Linked DNA regions of Homo sapiens. Changing the gene in region 1 together with any one later gene gives a genetic interaction. Each region holds a gene or a part of one and is shown on either strand. Other genes may lie near its edges. The genes, in order: PAX3 and SOX10.

Region 1 (7,306 bases):
CTGTGGTGTCCAGCCAAAGCCTTTTGTGTCTGTGAGTAAACAGGAAAGTGCCCAGAAAACACCTCAAATAATTGAAAGCCGGTTTGACTTGAATGGAGGCTTAGGTCAAATTTGCTTCCAAGTTTCATGGATTAGTGCTAATTGTCCCTTGGTGTCAGCCTAATTTTGCCCATCAATAAATTACTGGTTCACATTTTTGGTGGTGTTCTCAAAGGCAATTCAGCCTACATTATTCAAGACGGATTACTTCAAATGCAATTTGAAAAATGGGGAGAGAACATAATAGTTAATCCTTAGAAAGAGAATTCGCAACAAGATTGTAAAACGTTTGGTTAAATACTAGACTCAGGATGTCGAATGCTGACATGCCAAGTACAGTACTTTCCAAGTAGGGAAATTCAGGGCAAGCTGCTCATTTCCCTGGACCTTCTCCTTCACTCTCACCTCCTTTCTCTTTCTATGAAAGGTTCTCCCAGCCTTCCAATCACTGCTGCTATCCAACTTTGGCCACCATTTGGAGAGCAGGTTGGAAACAGGATGGGCAAGATTGAACAGGAGGAAGGCCATGCTCCCATGCATGTGAAAAGACCATGGACACACACAAAAGCACACTCAACTGCATCTTGATACCTCCCAAAAGCAAACTCCTGCAGAGAACTTCAGGATGAACATATGTTTGCTTCATTACGGAGCTTAGGATATTCTATACCTATCTGAACTTCTGAACTATACAGATCAGTTAGACGGCTTCAAATCATCATGGTGCTTTTTTAGGAATTCCAAATTACTGATGCTATAAGGATTCTGCCATATTCTCATTCCCTTTCTCATTCCCAAGGGTCCTGAGAAATTATGCATTTGGGTCATTCCCAAAATGCATGATTTCTCAGGACCCTTGGGAATCACCATTGTTATTTTTTGGGAATCCTAAATTACTGATGCTATAAGGGTCCTGAGAAATCATGCGTTCTACTAGTTTTTAATTTGGGCATGGGAGAAAGGTATTTGAGCACATAATGAAAGCCAGAGGCCCTTTCTCTAGTTAACAGTTGTATATACACATACACAAGCAAAGGAGCAAAATTTTGTGTACAAATCTCAAATCTCCCAGATCTCCTGAAGTCCACCCATGATTATCCTGGTGGGGCATGAACCCCAGCTGAGATCATGTGATCTAACCAACCCCATATTTTTTTAAATTAAAAAAATTAAAAACCTGAAGTCCAAAAGGATTCCAGCAAGATTAAGTAACTTGCTCAACAAAACACATTTGTCAACTGGGAACGAAACCCATATCATCTGACTCCTAGTTAAATTCTATTTCCCCTAGTAACTTGTTTTTCTGTCTTCCATTGTCTTCGTGGTAAAACAGGATGTTACTTGCCTACTTCATGGGATTCTTAGATGGAATATTTACTAAAACTTTTGCACATCATAAATATTTGGGCCAGACATAGTGGCTTACACCTGTAATCTCAGCACTTTGGGAGGCCAAAAAATAGGAGGATTACTTGATTCCAGGAGTTTGAGACCAGCCTTGGCAACATGGTGAAACCGCATCTCTACAATACAAAAATTAGCTGGGTGTGGTGGCACAAGCCTGTAGTCTCGGCTACCCAGGAGACTGAGGCGGGAGGATCATCTGAGCCCAGGAGGCAGAGGTTGCAGTGAGCAGAGATCGCACCACTGTACTCCAGTGCACTCCAGCTCAGGCAACAGAGTGAGACCCTGTCTCAAAAAATAATTAATTAATTAATATTTGCAAGTAATTCCTCCCCACAAAACTTGAATGTTTGTCATTATTTGCATGATATTAATAACAGCTACCCTCATTACAGATGAATTAGGCAAATCATCTTTTTTAAAAAAAAAAAAAACCTTGTAGTGTTATTATTACTAGGCAAATAGTCGTTAGTATACAACAGTTCTTACATTGTGTACTCAGATTTGGTTATGATAAACTCAACACAGCTACAGCCTAAATGAATTTATATAAAACACTGACAGAGGCTAAAGTTATTATAGCTTTAGTCCCATTTCTATTTAGAAGAGTGTAGAAATATTTTTCCTCAGGAGAAAAAAAATGAAATGTAGACATGATTTGGGGTTTGGGGGGTGTTTCGTGTTTGGTTTTCCCAGGTGCCCCAAATTAAACTAACTCACACTTTCTGGCTATCACTCAAACTGAGTTGACTTGGCTACTGCTTTCCCAGATCCTCTAAAAACTAAAGGATTTTCTTCTGGCATTTTAATCAGTGATTAACTACTCCCTTCTTTTTCCTGCTGGGTTAAGTAAAAGATCCATATGCTGGGTGTTCTAGGGAATTTGTTAGGCTATAGATCACAGCCGTGGTGCCAGCCATGATGTGTCTCAAGGGAACTAAAGAAGCCATAAGGAATGTCAAGAGTCACCGGGTTAAAGCCACATTAAGACAGCTGTTACGTTAATGAAGGCCCTGCTTCGAAGAGGAGGTCACTATATGGAAAAGTATGAACTACTGTTTATTGGTTTGATCCCATGTCCTCTGAAAGTTAATGGGCCATTATTATTATCCTTTGACATTCATTGAGCCAGATGAGAATGCTGGGTGCTGTACAAGCTACATGGGTTTGAAATATATTCTGTCTCCATCCTTAGTTTTGACAAAGGCAGGAATGAAAGAGAACAACACCGAACACTCCTCAGTTTTCCATCACACTCCTTGTCTGATCTATTTACAATAAATGTTTATTTTTCCTTACTCACATTGAGTTCAGAGCTGATACTCGGCCTATTTTAAAAATAGATCTAGTGCCAGTGGCTCACACCTGTAATCTCAACACTTTGAGACGCTGAGGAGGGAGGATCACTTGAGTCCAGGAGCTCAAGACCAACCTGAGCAACATAGCAAGACCCCAGCTCTACAAAAAAATAGAAAAATAATTAGCCAGACATGGTGGCACACATCTGTAGACCCAGCTACTCTGGAAGCTGAGGTGGAAGAATCACTTGAGCTTGGAAGATCGAGGCTACACAGTGAGCCATGATTAAGCCACTGTACTACAGGCTGGGCAACAAAGTGAGACTCTGTCTCAAAAAACAAACAAACAAACAAACAAAAAAGCAGATCTAGTAGGTGGGCTTGGCCAGTTACAGAGGACAGGTACCAAATCCTGGAATATAGTGGCCACTCAAAAGAGGCATGATTGGACCTCACATAACATTTGCAGGTAATTGCAGAACTATAATAAAAGCAAAGTAGATTTGAAACATATTATTTATAACATTGTTATATATAATATACTATTATATGATTTAATTTGTCTGCCCTTTTGATTGTGATACAGATTTTTTCTCTGCACTGTTATATTAATATGCATGTTAATATCATAACATTGATATAGTAATATTAATGTTATGTTAATATAATATTTATATAGTATTATATAATATTACTATATCAATACTGTATTAAAATATTTTTCTATTGAAATATTATGACTTAGTTAATAAAGGTTATTTCTACACTGTGTGGTGGGGAGAAACACTCTGTTTCCCAATGATAATAGGTTTCCCAACTTTAAAACACCAGCTCTGTGAACCTTGGTCTATCTACAACTCTTCCTTTCACTCACCTTCCTCCCCACTTCTAGATTACACAATCGGTTGTCCATTCTACCTCTGAATACCTTCACCACCATCTCTTCCTTGCCATTCCCACTGCCACTACCTATCTCATGCCATAGCCCCCACTCCCTGTCACATCAAATGTGAGCTCACTGGCCTGAAACCCAAGACCTCCATAGGATATCCTCAGCCTACCTACCAAACCCTATTTCTTCCACCACCCTACCACTCCTTACATTCTAATCAAACTAACTATTCTCCCAATATGACTAGAGTGAAAAAGAAAGGTTATCTTACGTGTAGCCCACCACTTCTACCTCTCTGTGCCTCTGCTCATATAATTCCCTATTACTAATATACTCTCCTTATGCACCTGGTCCAGTGAATATCTATCTAGCCCGGAAAGTTCATCTTAAATCTGCCCTCTGGGCCCAGCACAATGGCTCATGCCTATAATCCCAGCACTTTGGGAAGCCAAGGCAAGTGGATCGCTTGCACCTGGGAGTTCAAGAAGAGCCTGGGCAACATGGCAAAATCCCATCTCTTCAAAAAATTATCCAGGCATAGTGGCATGCACCTGTAGCCCCAACTATCTGGGAGGCTGAGGTGGGAGGATCACCTGAGCTCAGGAGGTGTAGGCTTCAGTGAGCTGTGATTGTACCACTGTACTCCAACCTGGGCTACAGAATGAGACCCTGTCTCAAAAAAAAAAAAAATTAAATCTGCCTTCTTCATGTACCTCTCTTCATTCCTTCAAGATCTCATCCCTTGAGTTCATGTCCTTTGCAGGGACATGGATGAACCTGGAAACCATCATTCTCAGTAAACTAACACAGGAACAGAAAACCAAACACTGCATGTTCTCACTCATGAGTGAGAGTTGAACAATGAGAACACATGGACACAGGGAGGGGAAAATCACACACCAGGGCCTGTTGGGGGGTGGGGGGCTAGGGGAGGGATAGCATTAGGAGAAATACCTAATGTAGATGACGGGTTGATGGGTGCAGCAAACCACCATGGCACGTGTTATACCTATGTAACAAACCTGCCCCTTCTGCACATATATCCCAGAACTTAAAGTATAATTTTTTAAAAAAAGGTTGGGCATGGTGGCTCATACCTGTAATCCCAGCACTTTGGGAGGCCAAGGCGGCCAGATCACGAGGTCAGGAGTTCGAGACCAGCCTGACCAACATGGTGAAACCCCATCTCTACTAAAAATACAAAAATGAGCCGGGCCTGGTGGCAAGCACCTGTAATCCCAGCTACTTGGGAGACTGAGTCAGGAGAATCGCTTGAACCCAGGAGGCAGAGGTTGCAGTGAGCTGAGGTTGTACCACTGCACTCCAGCCTGGGTGACAGAGTGAGACTCCACCTCAAAAAAAAAAAAAAAAAAAAATCTCATCCTTTCCTCTTCTCAACTCCCATTGCACTTTTTCTCTTTCTGCACTTATCATGTCTGTGTTATTTTTAAATTATTTGTATGTTTATTTTTTTACCTTTCTTAGATTGCAACTCCTTCAGAGAACTGTCTTAATTGATCTTAGCATTCCTTGACTTTCCTAGCACTATGATGATCATATGGAAGTTTGAAGAAAACAATCTCTCTGACTGAGCTCTGCAGCCTGGAAGAGGCTATTTCTGTAAAATTCTGTAATAGGAGAGTTAATTAGCTGCATCTATGAACGTGTTGATCAATCTAGGGACCATGTCAACTGACTAGTCCACTGCTGAGTCCCCAGCCTGCAAATTAAGAATCTGGAAATAACACACAATATTTGCAGACAAGGTGACTTAACTTCTAGGGTGGTGAGGAGTTCGAGGATACCCTACGATATCTGCCATCTTTCAAACACTGTTTTACTAGCTCCAGGAAGTAGTTCTTCATTAATGATGAAAACATTATTCTATACTCTATAGAAACATATTACATCTAAGTAGCCTTTCCAGAAGGTTCAGAGCACCTCTAAGAGTTCAAAAGATAATTCAACATGTTCTTTAAGTAATATAATTTCTTGAAATGCTTCTTAATTATAAAATCGTTAAATGAAGGAATTTCATGTTATGCACCTTTGCACATTTTCATAATTGAAAGGTCACAGAGATGAAGCGTATGGGATCCAATTATCTCTAGACTCACTTTGCAGCTATGCCACCTTGGGTAGTTACTTATATAGTCCAAGTCTCAGTTTCCTTATTTGTAAATGGAGAGTAGCAATCATGGTACCCACCTAGGATTTTAATAATGATTCAATGGGTTAATTCATGTGAAGCACTTAAAATAGTGGCTGGGACAGAGTAACCACTCAAAATTTATTTGCTCTTACTTGTGTATCACCCCCAAAGTCCATATAGTGCTGGTGTACAATAAGGATTCCTGAAAAGTTGAGTTAGTCACATGAAGTGGTGGACTTCTGTGTGTCGTAAATGATATAGTTGTATTCTGTCAGTAAATAATCAAAGTCCTAACAATATGCATCCCTAGTAAAGGGCCATTCCTAATACATTTTTGGGGGGGATTGACATATGTTTTAGATGAGAAGATGCTTGTTTGTTTCCTGTCTGGACTGAAGTAGGACACGGAGGTTTGGGCAACAGTACCTGTACTCGGGCCTCGGTGAGCTTCGCCCTCTGGGCCAGTTCCTCCCTAGTATAAATGTCAGGGTAATGAGTTCTCTCAAAAGCACGCTCCAGTTCCTCCAGCTGTTCTGCTGTGAAGGTGGTTCGGCTTCTGCGCTGTTTCCTCTTTAGTGGTAAATCTGGTTCAGAGTCAATATCAGAGCCTTCATCTGATTGGGGTGCTGAGGCTAAAAGCACAGAAGAACAAAACATCATAAAATGTGAATCAAAAAAATAAAACTGAGATTGAATCCAAGTTCTCTCTCCGACTGCAAGACACCATTACAGTGATCCCTATACCTAAAGTAAAATAAATGTGGATCAAAAAACAAGTCTAACCAATCCGTAATAATTCAAATCCTGGTCTACAGTGCATTCCCAATGTCTTCCATGGACACCAAGCACCCCGCCCCCATGCAGTCCTGCATCATTAAATAATATTTAATCTCTTCTCCTACTCTATCTTTCTGCCCCCTAGGCAGAAATAATTGCTCATAGCATCTGTCATTCTAGGCCAATTATGAGCTCTTAGAAAACAGGGACAGGCCTTATTCCATTTGTATGGCCCTATGCTTACTACTTAATGGGTGCTTCCTTCGTGTCTAATGAATGGATCACATTGAGTTTTGTTTCTGATAAATTTTCACCAACATTTACATTATGAAATCTGTTAAATGTGATTTTTAAAAATATTCCAAACTTGACTTAGTACCTAAGAAGCGAGTAACAGTTAACTATTCCCAGATTCCTATATATTTATAGACTACTGCTCTTATAAAAAATTATATTTAAATCAGTATCTCATCACCAGATATGGGGAAATGCTTTAAAGAAAATGTATGTACTATTAAAATGTAAATCTCTAGAACTGACCTGAGAAGAAGCAGGCAGGCATTGTCTTGTGAACTGTCCCTAACTAGAGTCTGGGTCTCTGCTGAGTGGGCATCTGTCCAGGACAGCTGCTTTATTTAAGAAAGCCAATGCAAAAAAAAAAAAAAAAAAAAAAAAAAAAAGTATGATCCCTTTTGTAAAAAAATATTATGAGTTTCAAGAAGGCAACAACAGATCATTAACCCA
Region 2 (3,050 bases), on another chromosome or scaffold:
TCCTCCTCTTCAGATACCTGTCTCTTGAATTCTTTGCAAACTCCCGTCTGCTGAGTGCTGGGTGAGCAGAGGGGCTGCTTGCAAGGCAGTGAGTTCTAGCTGAGCCAGTTAAGAGTGAGTGGCCCCCCTGCAGTGTGGGGCATAGCCGCCGGGCTGGGGAGAAGTTCCCATCTGAGGCTTCAGTCCCTGAGCTCAGATGGACCCCACTGGGATGCCAGCTGTCCTAACACTCTCCATTGTTCCCACTTTCTTAGCAGGGAGAGAGACAGAAAGAGAGAGAGGAGAGTGGGAGGGGGGAGAGAGAGAGAAAGGAGAGGGGGAGGGGGGAGAGAGAGAGAGAAAGAGAGGAGAGAAGGGAGGGGGGAGAGAGAGAGGAGGGGGGAGGGGAAGGGGGTGGGGAAAGAGGGAGGGAGGTGGGAGAGAGAGACCTTTGATGATCTATCCTTTGCATTCTACTCCTAGCTACTTCCAGAAAGCATTTGAGGAAGCACCAGTACAGGGATAAGAGATGAAGAGACAGGCCAGGTCAGGCTCACCAAGCAGGTAACCGGAACCTTTAATTTTATTATGTGGAATGCTTAATGCAGAGTTAATAGGGGCTAGAGTGGCTAGGAGAGGGGACTACTGAGATAAATAACAGGAGACAGTAATGAGTTACATGTGGATTTGGGGGGCTGCAGAACAGGAAAATAGGGGCAGATATAGCTACATACTTTATTCAAATACCACTGGGAGGCAAGGGGTAAGAGGCAAGGGCAGAATGTACAGGTCAGGATTCTAGTGTCTTCAGCCTGCCGACAGCAACCTGGGTGCTGGGCCCTGTGTCTCCTGGAGCCAAGGGTTAGGGCCTGAGCAGCTGTCACTCTCTGGGAAGCCCAGGGAGTGGGGCTGACTGAGCAGGGGCCATAGAGCCTAGTAAGGGAAGAGGGAGCTGGCAAGGAGCCCAGGGAGGGAGGCTCTGTGAATTGTCTCTGATTCCTTTCCTGGAGCCCCTGCCTCGTCACCTCCTGGGATGCGTCTCAAGGTCATGGAGGTTGTAGTGGAGGAGGACTGGGGGCTGTTTCTCAGACAAAGAATGAGGTTATTGGCACAGAATTGGATCAGGGGGCCTCTGTGCCAACTCCTTCCTGCCTTCAGAAAGGGAGGGGGCATTGAAGGGATGAGAACTCCACTAAGTCCCTCGAACCCCCCACTCCCCAATGAGGCTCCTCAAAGCTACTCTCAGCCCCTGAGTGGGAGACACGGCCAGCTCCGGGCACAGTCTCTGGGTGGCCTAGCCCTTAGGCACTGTGGCATAGGTGGCATGGGCATGTCAGACCCTCACTATCTGTGAGAGAGAAAACAGGAGTCATAGGAGTGGTAAGGCCTCCGATGCCACCAACCCTGGTGCTTCCCCTCCCCGAGGAGGGTGAGCAGGCCCTTCTCAGGTCCTGGGATAGAGGGTCATTCCTGGGGGAAGGTGCAGCCCCTCATCTTTCAGTGTGGGTGCAACAGTCAACCTCCTTCTCCTCTGTCCAGCCTGTTCTCCTGGGGCTTTGCTGCTGGAGCCTGGATGGGGCGGGTGGGTCATCAGGGCAGTGAGCCAGACAGAAAGCCCCCCGACCTGTCAGCCTCTTCAGCCTCCTCAGCCTCCTCCACTGCCACCACCAGGCCTGAGGTGGGCAAGGAACAGGGCACACAGGCTGGGGGCAGGGGCTGGGCGGGGGGTGGTGGCGACAGGGCCCCCTTTAGGGCCGGGACAGTGTCGTATATACTGGCTGCTCCCAGTGTGTGGGGCTGTGGGACTGGGGCCCTGAGGGGCTGGGGTCAGAGATGGCCGTGTAGAGGGGCCGCTGCGAGGGCCCCATATAGGAGAAGGCCGAGTAGAGGCCAGAGGCCTGGCCCGAGTGGCCATAATAGGGTCCTGAGGGCTGATGGTCAGAGTAGTCAAACTGGGGGCGGGAGATGGAGGGGAAGGCTGAGCCATAGTGGGGCAGGCTGAGGGAGGTGTAGGCGATCTGTGAGGTGGATGGCTGGTCGGTGTAGTGTGGGGGCCCCTGGGGCCCCGCGGTCTCTGTCTTCACCTGGGCTTTGGCATCCACACCAGGTGGTGAGACCGTGGGCAGAGCCACGCCTGGTGGCTTGGAGATCCAGGCGGAGTGTCCACTGGCCACGGCCAGGGCACTGCCCAGCCCATAGCCGGCTGCTGAGTAGCTGCTCACATGGCCTGGGTGCCCATTGGGCGGCAGGTACTGGTCCAACTCAGCCACATCAAAGGTCTCCATGTTGGACATTACCTCGTGGCTGATCTCACCAATGTCCACGTTGCCGAAGTCGATGTGAGGCTTCCCGCCCTCCCCCATGGAGCGCCCGTCCCGCTTCGGGTCTGCCTTGCCCGACTGCAGCTCTGTCTTCGGGGTGGTTGGAGGGGTGGGTGGGCCATGGCTCTGGCCTGGGTAGAAGGGAGACAGAGAGAGAGAGCGCAAGGGGGAAGCAGGTTAGAGGCAGGTGGGCGCACGTGAACTTCCATGGTTCACCTTCAGGCAGCGGGTGCCTCTGGGAAAACCTTGTAAGTTTCACATTTTGGCAGCATGAGTCGGGTTTTTTTTTGTTTTTTTTTTTTGAGATGGAGTTTCGCTCTTGTTGCCCAGACTGGAGTGCAGTGGCGCCATCTCGGCTCACTGCAACCTCTGCCTCCTGGGTTCAAATGATTCTCCTGCCTCAGCCTCCTGAGTAGCTGGAATTACAAGCGCCCACCACAATGCCCAGCTAATTTGTGTATTTTTAGTAGAGACGGGGTTTCACCATGTTGGCCAGGGTTGTCTTGAACTCCTGACCTCAGGTGATCCACCTGCCTCGGCCTCCCAAAGTGCTGGGATTACCATCATGAGCCACTGCGCCCCACAGCATTTGTTTAAATACTGGTGTCTTAGATTGATCTCTAGTTGTTTATGAAATTCTCAAATCTTAGGGATGGGTCCTGGGGAGGCCTGCCTCATTCTGAAAAAACCTTTCCTGTGGAAAGTTCTTCCTCTCATCAGCTTCTCTGCTGTCCAGGTGGTCTGGCCCAG

What was found.
Region 2: of PAX3 (region 1) and SOX10, changing one enhances a phenotype caused by changing the other (phenotypic enhancement), as found in Homo sapiens cells (one study listed by BioGRID).

What each region holds. Positions count from the first base shown.
Region 1 is NC_000002.12:222,225,867-222,233,172, forward strand, and holds part of PAX3 (paired box protein Pax-3), read right to left. Parts: intron 6,418-7,306; coding exon 6,212-6,417; intron 1-6,211. UniProt on the Homo sapiens protein: Transcription factor that may regulate cell proliferation, migration and apoptosis. Involved in neural development and myogenesis. Transcriptional activator of MITF, acting synergistically with SOX10.
Region 2 is NC_000022.11:37,971,768-37,974,817, forward strand, and holds the end of SOX10 (transcription factor SOX-10), read right to left. Parts: intron 2,432-3,050; coding exon 1,728-2,431; 3' UTR 545-1,727; downstream 1-544. UniProt on the Homo sapiens protein: Transcription factor that plays a central role in developing and mature glia.